Linked DNA regions of Homo sapiens. The protein of the gene in region 3 purifies or fractionates together with the protein of the main gene of each other region. This does not show direct contact. Each region holds a gene or a part of one and is shown on either strand. Other genes may lie near its edges. The genes, in order: NLRP3, MAP2K4 and CCDC50.

Region 1 (3,655 bases), on a different chromosome or scaffold from region 3:
CAGCCTCTACACTAGGAGAGGACTCTTACACTGCAGCCTCTATATCCTCAACAGTGTCATGGCTCAGCACCTTCACCTATGTAGCCATGCTCTCCCAGGTACACAGGCTGGTTTGTTAGTGTCTGTCTTTGAAATGTGGTGCCCAGACCTGATGATGCATGGTGGATGTTTTACCTCCTGTTGCAGAGAACTATGGTTTCACTGGTGGAATCTCTGATTTCCTTGTTTTTTTTGGCAGTTACATAAGCCTTTTGATTCATGTTGGAATTCTGCAGTAAACAGTAGTAGGGAATACCCACTAATAATCATGCACTTTCCCTGTACCACTTTCCTGTATCACTTTCCCTGTATCACCTGCTCTTTCATGTTCTTACATGGATTTTCTCAGTTGGCTTCAGAAAGATGCTATAGGGTAGGGTATCTGTGTCTCCAATTTAAAGAGGAGAAAATAAAATTCAGGGAGCCTCATAACTTTGTCCAAGGACACTCAGAGAGAAGGTAGTGGAACTCAGTGTAGACAAACGTCTGTGACCTCCCAAGCCACTGCCTTAATTCCCAGTGCATTGCCTTAGGAGATGTTGCTAATGGGCTCTCTACAGGGCTTCTTCATCTGGCTCTCAGCTTAAGGGTGGGACCTCCAATTTAGCTTTGCTAAACCTCATCTTACCTGTCTTTTGACCCATTGACTAGGCAGTTTTGAATCTTCATTCTGACAATAATATCTACAAATACAATAAGCAAATTGGATAGGTCTTCATTCATTCACATTATTAATATATATACCAGCCAGATCAGCATTCAAGACAAAATTTGGCAGGAAAGGTCTTCCCAGAGGAGTAATCCACTAATCCATAATTAACAACCAACCTCTGTTCACAAAGCTCTGATACTTCCTTGGACCTCTCCCATCAGCCAATCCTCAGATGTGACCATATCTCTTTCTATGAAGTCTTCCTGCAGTGCCTTCATTTCCTCGCCTTAGGGTATTACCCTTCCTTAGCAAATCGCCTTAGAATATTACTCTTCCTTGGCAATTTGACTTCTGCTTCTCTAAGTTTGTTCAACAGACATGATTTTGTCCCTTCATTTTGCAGGCCCTCTGGGGGCTCTGTGGTGGGCACTGACAGCAGCAGTGAGTAAAACAGACCAAAATCCTGTTTTCACAACCGTTCTTTTAGGGAAGTGATAACAGATAATAGACATGCTAAACAATATACCCTGTGTATAAGAGCTATAAGAAAAACTGGAGTGACGGCGAGGGGTGCTTCTCTGCTCACGTTTGGCGAGTGCCTCTCCGAGCGGGTGACATTGGAGCAGGTGCTCAGTGAAGCGTGGGATGGGCTGTGAAGGAGCCGGAAGAGCCCTCCAGGCAAAGCAGATGGAACCGAAGAGGCCCAGGCGTAGGCACTCAGGTGACTCTCAGTGATCCTGGTTCCAAATTCCACATGACAAACAAGCCAATTACAAATGTGCCTGATGCATCTGTAATATGCTCTATGTAGTTACTATTGTCAATACCTAACCTGGTAGAGCTGCTGTAATAAAGTATCACAAACAGAGCGGCCTAAACAACAAGAGTTTATTGCCTCTCAGTTCAGGAGGCCAAAGTCTGAGACTGAGGCATCAGCAGGCTGGGTCCTTATAGGTCGTACAGGTCCTTCCCAGTCCTTACTTTAGTTGACATCTGCTGCCTTTAATTCATTTCACTCTTCCTCTTTGGAAGCCTTCTTCGCTCTTATTTTTAGGTCACTACTTAGTCTTTCCTGCTAATGTTATAGCTTCCCCCTCCCTGGATCCTGCATTGGCTTCTCTTCCTGTGGTCTGGGGATTTCACGACTGGTTTAGTTGTGTTTTTTTTTTTTTTTTTTTTTTTGAGTTGGAGTCTTACTCTGTCACCCAGGCTAAAATGCAGTGGCGCAATCTTGGCTCACTGCAACCTCTGCCTCCCGGGTTCCAACAATTCTTCTGCCTCAGCCTTCTGAGTAGCAGGGACTACAGGTGTGCACTGCCATGCCTGGCTAATTTTTGTATTTTTAGTAGATACGGGGTTTCACCATGTTTGCCAGGCTGGTCTCGAATTTCTGACCTCAGGTGATCTGCCTGCCTTGGCCTCCCAAAGTGTTGGGATTACAGGCGTGAGCCACACACCCGCCTGGTTTACCTTTTTTGTTGTTGTTGTTACTAAATATTTCTAAACTCCCTGAGAATTCTCATATACCTCTCAATTTCAACAACAGTAGGTCTCAAACCCAGATATCATTCACAAACTTTTTATTAGAAAAGTAACACATGCTTGGTGTAAACATATCATAGTACAGACAAAGTGGAAAGTGAAAGCTCCTTCTCAGCCCTCTTCTGAGAGAGCCATTTACAATAGTCTGATGAACAACCATCCAGACTTTTTTTAATACAATAGATTGTTATATAATCCATTCATCTGTCCATCCATCCATCCATCCATCATCCATCCCTCTATTTTCCATCCGTCAATCCATCCATCCATCCATCCATCCATCCATCCATCCATCCATCAATCCATCCAAGGGAGTATCAGAGCTTTGTGAACATATATTGGTTGCTAATTATGGACAAATGGATTTCCTGTATATGCTGATCTGGGTGGTATTTATATCAGTAATGTGAATGAAGACCTATGTGATTTTCATGTTGCATTTGTAATACATTGTTATGTAGTATTTTAAATGCCTAGTCTGTTAGAGCTACTGTAATAAAGTATCACAAACAGAGCAGCTTAAACAACAGAAATTTATTGTCCCTCAGTTCTGGAGGCCAGAAGTGTGAGATTAAGATGCTAGCAGGCTGGGTCCTTCTGAGGGCTGTGGGGAATCTGTTCATGCTTCTCTTTGGCTTCTGGTGGAATGTCATCTTGCTGACACATTTTGCCATTCCTTGACCTGTAGATGCCTCTGCCACACCATTGCCTTTATCTCTACGTGGTGTCTTCCCTGTGTCTGTGTGTGTCTTTCTCCATGTCCCAAGTTTCCCTGTGAAAGAACACAAGTCATGTTAGATTTGTAACGACCTGATCTTAACTAATTACATTTTCAGTAACCGTATCACCAAATAAGGTCACAATCTGAAGTACTGGGGCCTAGGACTTCCACATATAAAGTCTTAGAGGAAACAATTCAATCCATAACACCCTATCTATTGAAACTAGAACCATAATATAAATATTTTTCTGTGATATCCTTTTTTCATTTATCATGGATAAATTTCCATGCTGATTTGTGTAGATCTATCGATTGGGGCATAATATCCCATAGTGTGCTTTACCATAATTTATTTAATCAAATCATGCATTTTGGGATAACTGTTCTTTTCCACTATTACAAACAACTCTGCAAAAAGCACATTTGTATATATAGTTTTATGCATGTGTATTTGCTTTGAGATAGGTATCTATAAGTGGCATTAATCAGTCGAGACTTTTATGCATTTTATGTGTTAGGTACAGCCATACATGTGGCTGTGTGTTAGGTATAGCCTATGGGTTAGGCATAGCCTGTGTGTTAGGTATAGCCTATGGGTTAGGTATAGCCTACGTGTTAGGTATAGCCTATGTGTTAGGTATAGCCTATGTGTTAGGTATAGCTACATTTTTTTCTCTCGAACTTTGGGTCCTCATCTCTGG
Region 2 (3,655 bases), on a different chromosome or scaffold from region 3:
CTGAAATTAGTGAACCTTGAACATCAGTAAATTTTATTTAATTTTGTTTGGCTTAATGCTTGTTAGAAATAATATCTTTTTTTCTTTTGGCCTAAAATTATGTAGAGTTAGGTCCCTAAACAAAATTCTTTGTTTCTCTTGTATTTCTTCTTGTTCTTGTCTTGATTTTTTTTTTTTTCCCTTCTTTGTTAGCTGTGTTCTATAATTATGAGAGTAGCACCTTTGAGGCATTTGATAGTTACCTTAGGGATATTTACTGATCACAGTAAAGCACCAAGGTACTGCCTGGGGAGTAGTTGAATAAAATAAAAAAACTTCAGAAGTAACTTTTATTGTTCTCTTACTAAATGAAGTGATGAGTTTATAGCCATCTTTTATCAGTTAGGATCAGTTAGCTTTTTTGTTGGAGTCAGTGCTTTTGATTACAAGTAATAGAAAATCCTGATAACTCTCTTTAAACTTCAGGGAAATTCATTATCTGTCATAATTAGTCCAAAGATGGGGTGGCTCAAAGCACAATATGCTCCTCTTCCTTCTGTCCTCCTTCATGTGTTAACTCTGTCCTCAGGGTAGTAACAACTAGAGCAGTTCCCACTATCATGTCTATATGTGGCTGCCTCGTGAAGAAGAGGTGCTCTCGTGCTGTGCAGCTCTGTAGGGAGTATGGAAACTTTTCCCACGTCTCTAATACCTTTTCTTGGCTCATTCACCAGAAGTGCCTCATGCCCTTAAACCAGCTACTATCAAGAAGCATGAGACTACCCTTATAAAACTTATACCAGCCAACAGCCAGGTTTTCGAGGTGTGGATGTTGATGAGAAGAGATACTTCAATAAAACACAGGTTCTGTTAGAAAGTATGGATGGGGCTGGGTGTGGTGGCTGACACCTGTAATCCCAGCACTTTGGAGACCAAGGCAGCTGGATCACTTGAGGTCAGAAGTTCGAGACCAGCCTAGCCAACATGGTGAAACCCCATCTCTACTAAAAATACAAAAATTAGCCAGGTGTGGTGGCGCATGCCTGTAATCCCAGCTACTTGGGAGGCTGAAGCAGAAGAATCGATTGAACTTGGGAGGCGGAGGTTGCAGTGAGTGGGGATTGCACCACTGCATTCCAGCCTGGGTAAAAAAGAGCGAGACTCTTGTCTCAAAAAAAAAAAAAAAAAAAAGCATGGATGGTTAGGAATGGATGTTTGATAGGCCCACAGCTGTTTCGGTCATGGTAAGAGATCTTTACTGAATTTTTTTGTGGATCACCTTCTGAGTTACATTTAGATGTTTTCTGCATCCTATATTTTAAAACCTTATTTTTTATTCATTGAGCCAGGATAGTGACAAGGACATGGATAAAAGGACTGAGCTATGGATAGAGAATTAGTTGGCACATACTGGTAGTGACTTGATTGTCAATGAGAAAGGGATTTGACATTCCTTATATTTTGACTGTTATGTAATGAATCTGGACTAAGTAAATGAATTTGTAAGCCTCTTGAAAACAATTTAATGCCTAAATTTCTTGTGAAAATTTTTTTTGATATTCAGTTTTTAAGCACTGGCATTCAGAAAATTGTTTTCCTTTCTCATTTTCAATAGAAGAAAACCATTGTTTTTTCTGTGTTTTATAAATATGAAGATGTTAAGAGAAAAATCAATCCCCATCTATATCTTACAGATTAATGTTTGTGAAATGACTTTTGCTGTTACATTTACACAATTATAGTTATTAAAGCTACATGTTTAAAACATGAATAATTATTGTATGTGATAAATGAAGATGTTTTACTTCTTATATATCTGAATTTAAGGACTTGACCACTTATGTTGTCTAAGGTTTTTCAATATTTTTGCTTAAAGTGAAGCCTTATGTAACTTAGGAAGAAGCTAATTGTATACTGAATGATATCTATGTCTTGCAGATATCAAACCTTCCAATATTCTTCTGGACAGAAGTGGAAATATTAAGCTCTGTGACTTCGGCATCAGTGGACAGCTTGTGGACTCTATTGCCAAGACAAGAGATGCTGGCTGTAGGCCATACATGGCAGTAAGTGTTAAGTCCAGGCCTTCTTGCTTGATAGTCATTGCACAGAGAGCCTGTGCTCTTTTGTGCTGGCCATTAGTCATACGGTTTTACCATGAAACTGCTAGAATATTTCCCTTACCCTAAGGCCCAAGCTCAGGTCCTAGCCTCTCCATGAAACTTTGCTAAATTATCCCAGTCAGCTCCTGTTTTCATTGTCTTGCTTTATTTCTCTTACTTGGTATTTAGCAGTTGTGGTCTTCTCTGATTATTGTTTTTTCATTATATTGAACTCAACTCATTAAACAGATGGTAACTTCTCAGAAAGTTCCCACCGTCCCTTAGTGAGACAAATGGGAAGCCTTGAGTTCATTAGCAGAATTCACTATGTATTACAGAGTCTGAAGCTGCATATTTTGAATATTGTTAGTCCTTTTTTTTAGGGGTAGATGAAGCACACCAACAAATGCAAAGGTAGAGGCCTTCAGTATTTTGCAACCTGGAGCCTCTTTTCCTGCAAAGAGACAGATGTACACTATCCATCCATAGATATCAAACTCATCTTACCCCAGTATATTTGCATACAGTGTTCCTACAGCCTGGATTTTGATCTGTATTTGAATGAAAATGTAGTGTCTGTATTTCAGACATTTCCCTAGGTGTTAATGTCTTTCTTCAATGTTGCCATGGTTCTTTGGGGACCAGCACACTACTAAATGTGACACATAAGGTTTTGTGGTTGTTTCTTGAGGCCTCCCTGCCAGCAGCATTTCTTTCCATCTTTGTAGACTGTTTTAAACTAAAGATAAGCTTAGAATTGAATAAAATTGTTCTTTCTTGGTTTCCTCCTTGATATATATGTTTTCAAACCTAGTGCTATAAATAATAAAAAAGTAAGAGTCACAGGCTAGATATTATAGGTGTTCTAGATTATTTATGAATGGATAGGCTTAGTGCTACTACAAATTCAACTTACTGCATTTTTCAATCCTCTTTTGGTTTTGTTATATCTTCCCATATCACTTTTTCTTCAGATGAACATGTAAAAGCGGTGTGTGTGTGTGTGTGTGTGTGTGTGTGTAGACACCTAACCTGTGTGGTAAGACCTTTTAAACTTTTGGTTTTGTGGATGTTGACTGGCTGGGCAGATTTCTTGACTCAGTTTGGAAGATCATTTGTTTATCGTGATAACTAGGGATAAATGGCACAATAGTTTCAAAGGCAAGAAATAAAAAAAATTAGACATGGAGTATTTGGGAAATGTGATTTACATATTTATTAAGGATACCCCGAGAATGAACTGAAATTGTTATTTACAGTTTTAGGGCTTGTCTCGATACTAACAGTGACTAAATGTTTTTGTTGTGTGACACTGACTAAGAATTATATTTGATTGAAGCAGGCTTTGAAAATGCAATTGCAGCCCAGATAAAGTAGAATATTTTGAATTCAGCTTTCTAAGAAAGACTCAGACTTTCTTTAAAACAGACTTTCGTCATTCTTGTGCAGAGATATGCTTTGCAGGCCCAGGAGATGTAAGACTTCTGTTTTCTTGCTGACCTTCATCTGTGGAACACAAAGGCTGATAAACTCTTGGCCTCTAATCTTTACTGGACCAGATGAAATTCTTCTGT
Region 3 (3,655 bases):
ACAAAATCACGGACTTAGTTTTCAAAAGCCTCTGTCTTCATTCAAGCCTCTACCTGAACCTCCCAAATTAATGTAAAATCTGTATAGAATTAATTGACTAATAACTACATTGGATGTGATAATAAGTGGGAAGAAAGTAGAAGCACCGTAGAGAAGGCAAACCCAAATGAAGTGTTAAAGGTCACAAGTGACACAGAAGATGTATCTCCTGGTACAGAAAATAAATAAGTGAAGCTTCATCTGAGTTTAATGATTTCAAACCATATTTCCAAGAAGTACCATCTCTGGTTCAGTCAGCTAATTATACAGACTCCTGGGAAAGCGAAACTGAGAAAGCAGTAGTAAACAAGCGGTAATCCTGACTTACGGCAGCCCGGGTATCCAGACTGAATAAAAGGTTCCAGTTCAATGAAAACTGCAGCATTTCATCCTTCCCAAGATGTACAGCTATTAAAATTGCCAGGGAGTGAACTGAAAGACTTCCCTTCTAGCTTACTTATTTCATCCAGGAACAATTTCAAAACCTTGAAGTCTCAGGCAGAAATATAATACCCGGTTCTTCTCTCCTTTAGGACCTATAAAATATCACTCTCTACTCCTGATTTATATTTGAGTGGTTTGTCTTGATAATTTCTGAAAAAGCTCATTATACTGTTATTAACCTAATTCAGGATTTTAAACATCTGCATCAACCTCAGAACTGGCCTTTCTAACAGAGAATTGTGAATAATGTAAAGGGCAATGAATTTAGAACTCTAGAACATTCTAGCTTTGGTTCTCACCTTAACCTGTGACACTGAGCCTCATAACATCTCAAATATCTCTCCTCCTCTTTACATCTCCATTACCATGACCTTCAATTTAGGCCTCATCATCTCCTTCCTCTCTGTCACCACTGTCCTCATTCAAGCCTCACCATCTCTTAATTTGACCATTGCTCAACAGCTGCCTTCAAATCTTGCCCACTCCAAGCCTTTACCCACCTAGTCTACAGAATAGATCCCAAAATGAAAATCTGAAACTACTTCAAAGGTTCTCCATTCCTTATAATTTAAAATCTACAAAACCTGAAATCTTTAACATAACTTATCGTGACCCTTTTGATCCAGCTTTTGACTACTTTCCTGGCCTCACTTCCTACTTCTGCCTGTAAATACACTCTCCACTCCAGCAACACTGAACTTCTTGCAGCTAACGTGAGATTGATTCCAAGTCCTCTTACCTCCTGCCCTTATGCATGCTGCTCCTTCTGGCTAGAATGGTTTTCCCCATCACTATAAACTTCTAATTAACCTTCAAGTTTCAGATTAAACACATCGTCTTGTGAAGCTTTTCCCAGTCTCTTCTCTCTAAATAGGCCTGAAATTTACATTTCAATTCTCTGTGACTCATGCACGTATCTCTAGATACACAATGCTCAAGGTGTTTTCCTGAGGCCCTTAAAGGCAACAGCTGTCTTATTCATATCTCTGGTCTCCTTTCATGGTGCCAGATTTAGCATGAATCAATAAAAGTGTTTATTTACAAAATAAGGGAAGCTTAACAAAATGATTAATAAAGTCCTCTCTACAAATAATAAACAGAAAGACAAACCCTTCCTATAAGTTAGCAAAAATGACTGGCTTTCCTTTTTACCTGAATATGACACTGAAGTAAATTAAGGGGTTCCTTCCATTTTTCCTTTACCCCTTCCTCCTCAACACAGTATCTGTGGTTAAATCTACCCACATTAAAGATTTAGGATGTAAGAGCCACTCTCAAAGAAGAAATGTATCCTGGGAGCTTTATAACACTGAAACAGAATAAAAGTCACTGTGCCAAAAGAAACCTGAGAAATAATCATTTCCGTTTATCTGTGTGTTAAAGGAGGCTACTAGAGAGAACTTTTGTCAGACACTGAAGTTATGAAAAAAACTGAGTCTACACTTCAGAGCTTTTCAGAACATTCTGCTATGTACTGAAAAGCAAGGAAAGTAAGAGCGGCAAACACAGCTAGAACATAGTAAAGGAACCAATACAACCCATAAAGTTATTTGATGTCCACTATTTCACTGGATCCCCCAAAGAAACTATGAGGCAGAGGGGACAGAGATTATTATCCGCATGTTATGGGTAAGGAAAATAAATTCAGAGAAGTTGACTAACTGGCCCAAGGTCATAACAGCTAAAAAATGTTAAAATTCACACCATCATCAACATGTCCTTAAACCTGGTCAAGTGCTCCAACAAAAACAAAACATTTTCAAATCAAAAAAACTGTTAGACATCCAGGGTAAGATTTGTAATCTAACAGTAGAAGGAATCAGAGGAACAGAAGTAGTCTCCTTCTCCCCTGCCCTGGTTGCTAGCTCCACAGAGAAAACCAGTCTTGCATCACCCCTCCCACCTCCCAAATCCTCACAGGTCTTTGTAGCGCTTCTGGAGCTGGGCCTGCGCTTTCAGATCTTCCTCTTGGAGCTGCTTAGCCACCTGGAGATCATGCTGGACCAAACGGTTCCGCTGAACGTTCGATGCCAAATGATGCTCAACTGGAACAAAAAGATTGAGGACAGGAATGAATAATGTCTTGGTTTGTTAGTAATAAATGCCATAATAATCTTAAGAGCTTTACCATAACAACAGCTTTGCATCCATCACTTCATTTTATTGTCTCAACAACAATATATAATAAAGAGCAAGGAATTATTATCCCCACTTTTCCATTAAGTAAAAAGAGGATCAAAAAGATTAAATAATTTGCCTTTGGTCACACGGCAACAAAGTGGCAGTGCCAGGACATCTACACAAATATTCTAAAGCCAGGGCCAATGCTCTTTCTACTACTACATGTTGTCACTCTATTTATTAACCGCATTTTTCAAAATGTCAATTTTATATTGATATGTGAATTCACAAATCATATATTCACAAGTATGTACTTTAATATAACATGCATAGCTTAGATTTACTTTTCATCACCACATGGAAAAAAAGATTCAGAAAAATTCACAATGTGATCTCATTTATACCACAGTTGCCTGGGAAAACTGTTCAAGTCCCTATCCTAGGAGCAAGAATAGATTCCTTCTACGCACCCCAGATAAATCTACAACCATTGTGTCCCTCCTACAACAAGAGGCTAGGAAAAAGGTTCAAACCTCTCTTTTTCCTCCTACAGACGCAGCAGTCTACTAATTCCTGGCAGCCTATCTTACTTAACATGCCCGAAACTTCACTGATCACCCAGGCATCATTTGCCTAAAGAAATCCTTCAGGATGTATGGATGGTGAAGCCAAGTGACTGTGCTCTCTCCCCACCTAAGCCCTAAGAAACCAGCCTCAAGCTACCACTAAAAAAAGAAAACTGAAGGAGCATAAATGAGAGGTATTACTCACTCTCTTGTTCCTGCAGGCTGTGAGCCAGGGTGTGGTCCTCCAGGACAGCAAAATCTCGGCATACTAGAGTAGATGGAGGAAAAACAGACAGGAAGGCTCATTAGTAATACTTTAACATACAAAGGAAAGGATTTTTTTTTTTTACTTTAAAAAAAATCAATTCTAATATTTCAGAATGACACACTTTATAATTCTCAATGCATAAAATAGTGACTAGTTAAGTATGCAGTCTTTAGTCACAAAAATCTATAGTGCCTGCTTAGTGCCAAGCACAGGGTGT

What was found.
Region 1: the proteins of CCDC50 (region 3) and NLRP3 purify together in Homo sapiens (affinity purification with western blotting; one study listed by BioGRID). This does not show direct contact.
Region 2: the proteins of CCDC50 (region 3) and MAP2K4 purify together in Homo sapiens (affinity purification with western blotting; one study listed by BioGRID). This does not show direct contact.

What each region holds. Positions count from the first base shown.
Region 1 is NC_000001.11:247,436,529-247,440,183, forward strand, and holds part of NLRP3 (NACHT, LRR and PYD domains-containing protein 3), read left to right. Parts: intron 1-2,752; exon of another isoform or gene 2,753-3,005; intron 3,006-3,655. UniProt on the Homo sapiens protein: Sensor component of the NLRP3 inflammasome, which mediates inflammasome activation in response to defects in membrane integrity, leading to secretion of inflammatory cytokines IL1B and IL18 and pyroptosis.
Region 2 is NC_000017.11:12,111,316-12,114,970, forward strand, and holds part of MAP2K4 (dual specificity mitogen-activated protein kinase kinase 4), read left to right. Parts: intron 1-1,917; coding exon 1,918-2,045; intron 2,046-3,655. UniProt on the Homo sapiens protein: Dual specificity protein kinase which acts as an essential component of the MAP kinase signal transduction pathway. Essential component of the stress-activated protein kinase/c-Jun N-terminal kinase (SAP/JNK) signaling pathway.
Region 3 is NC_000003.12:191,356,871-191,360,525, reverse strand, and holds part of CCDC50 (coiled-coil domain-containing protein 50 long isoform), read right to left. Parts: intron 3,439-3,655; coding exon 3,376-3,438; intron 2,529-3,375; coding exon 2,402-2,528; intron 1-2,401.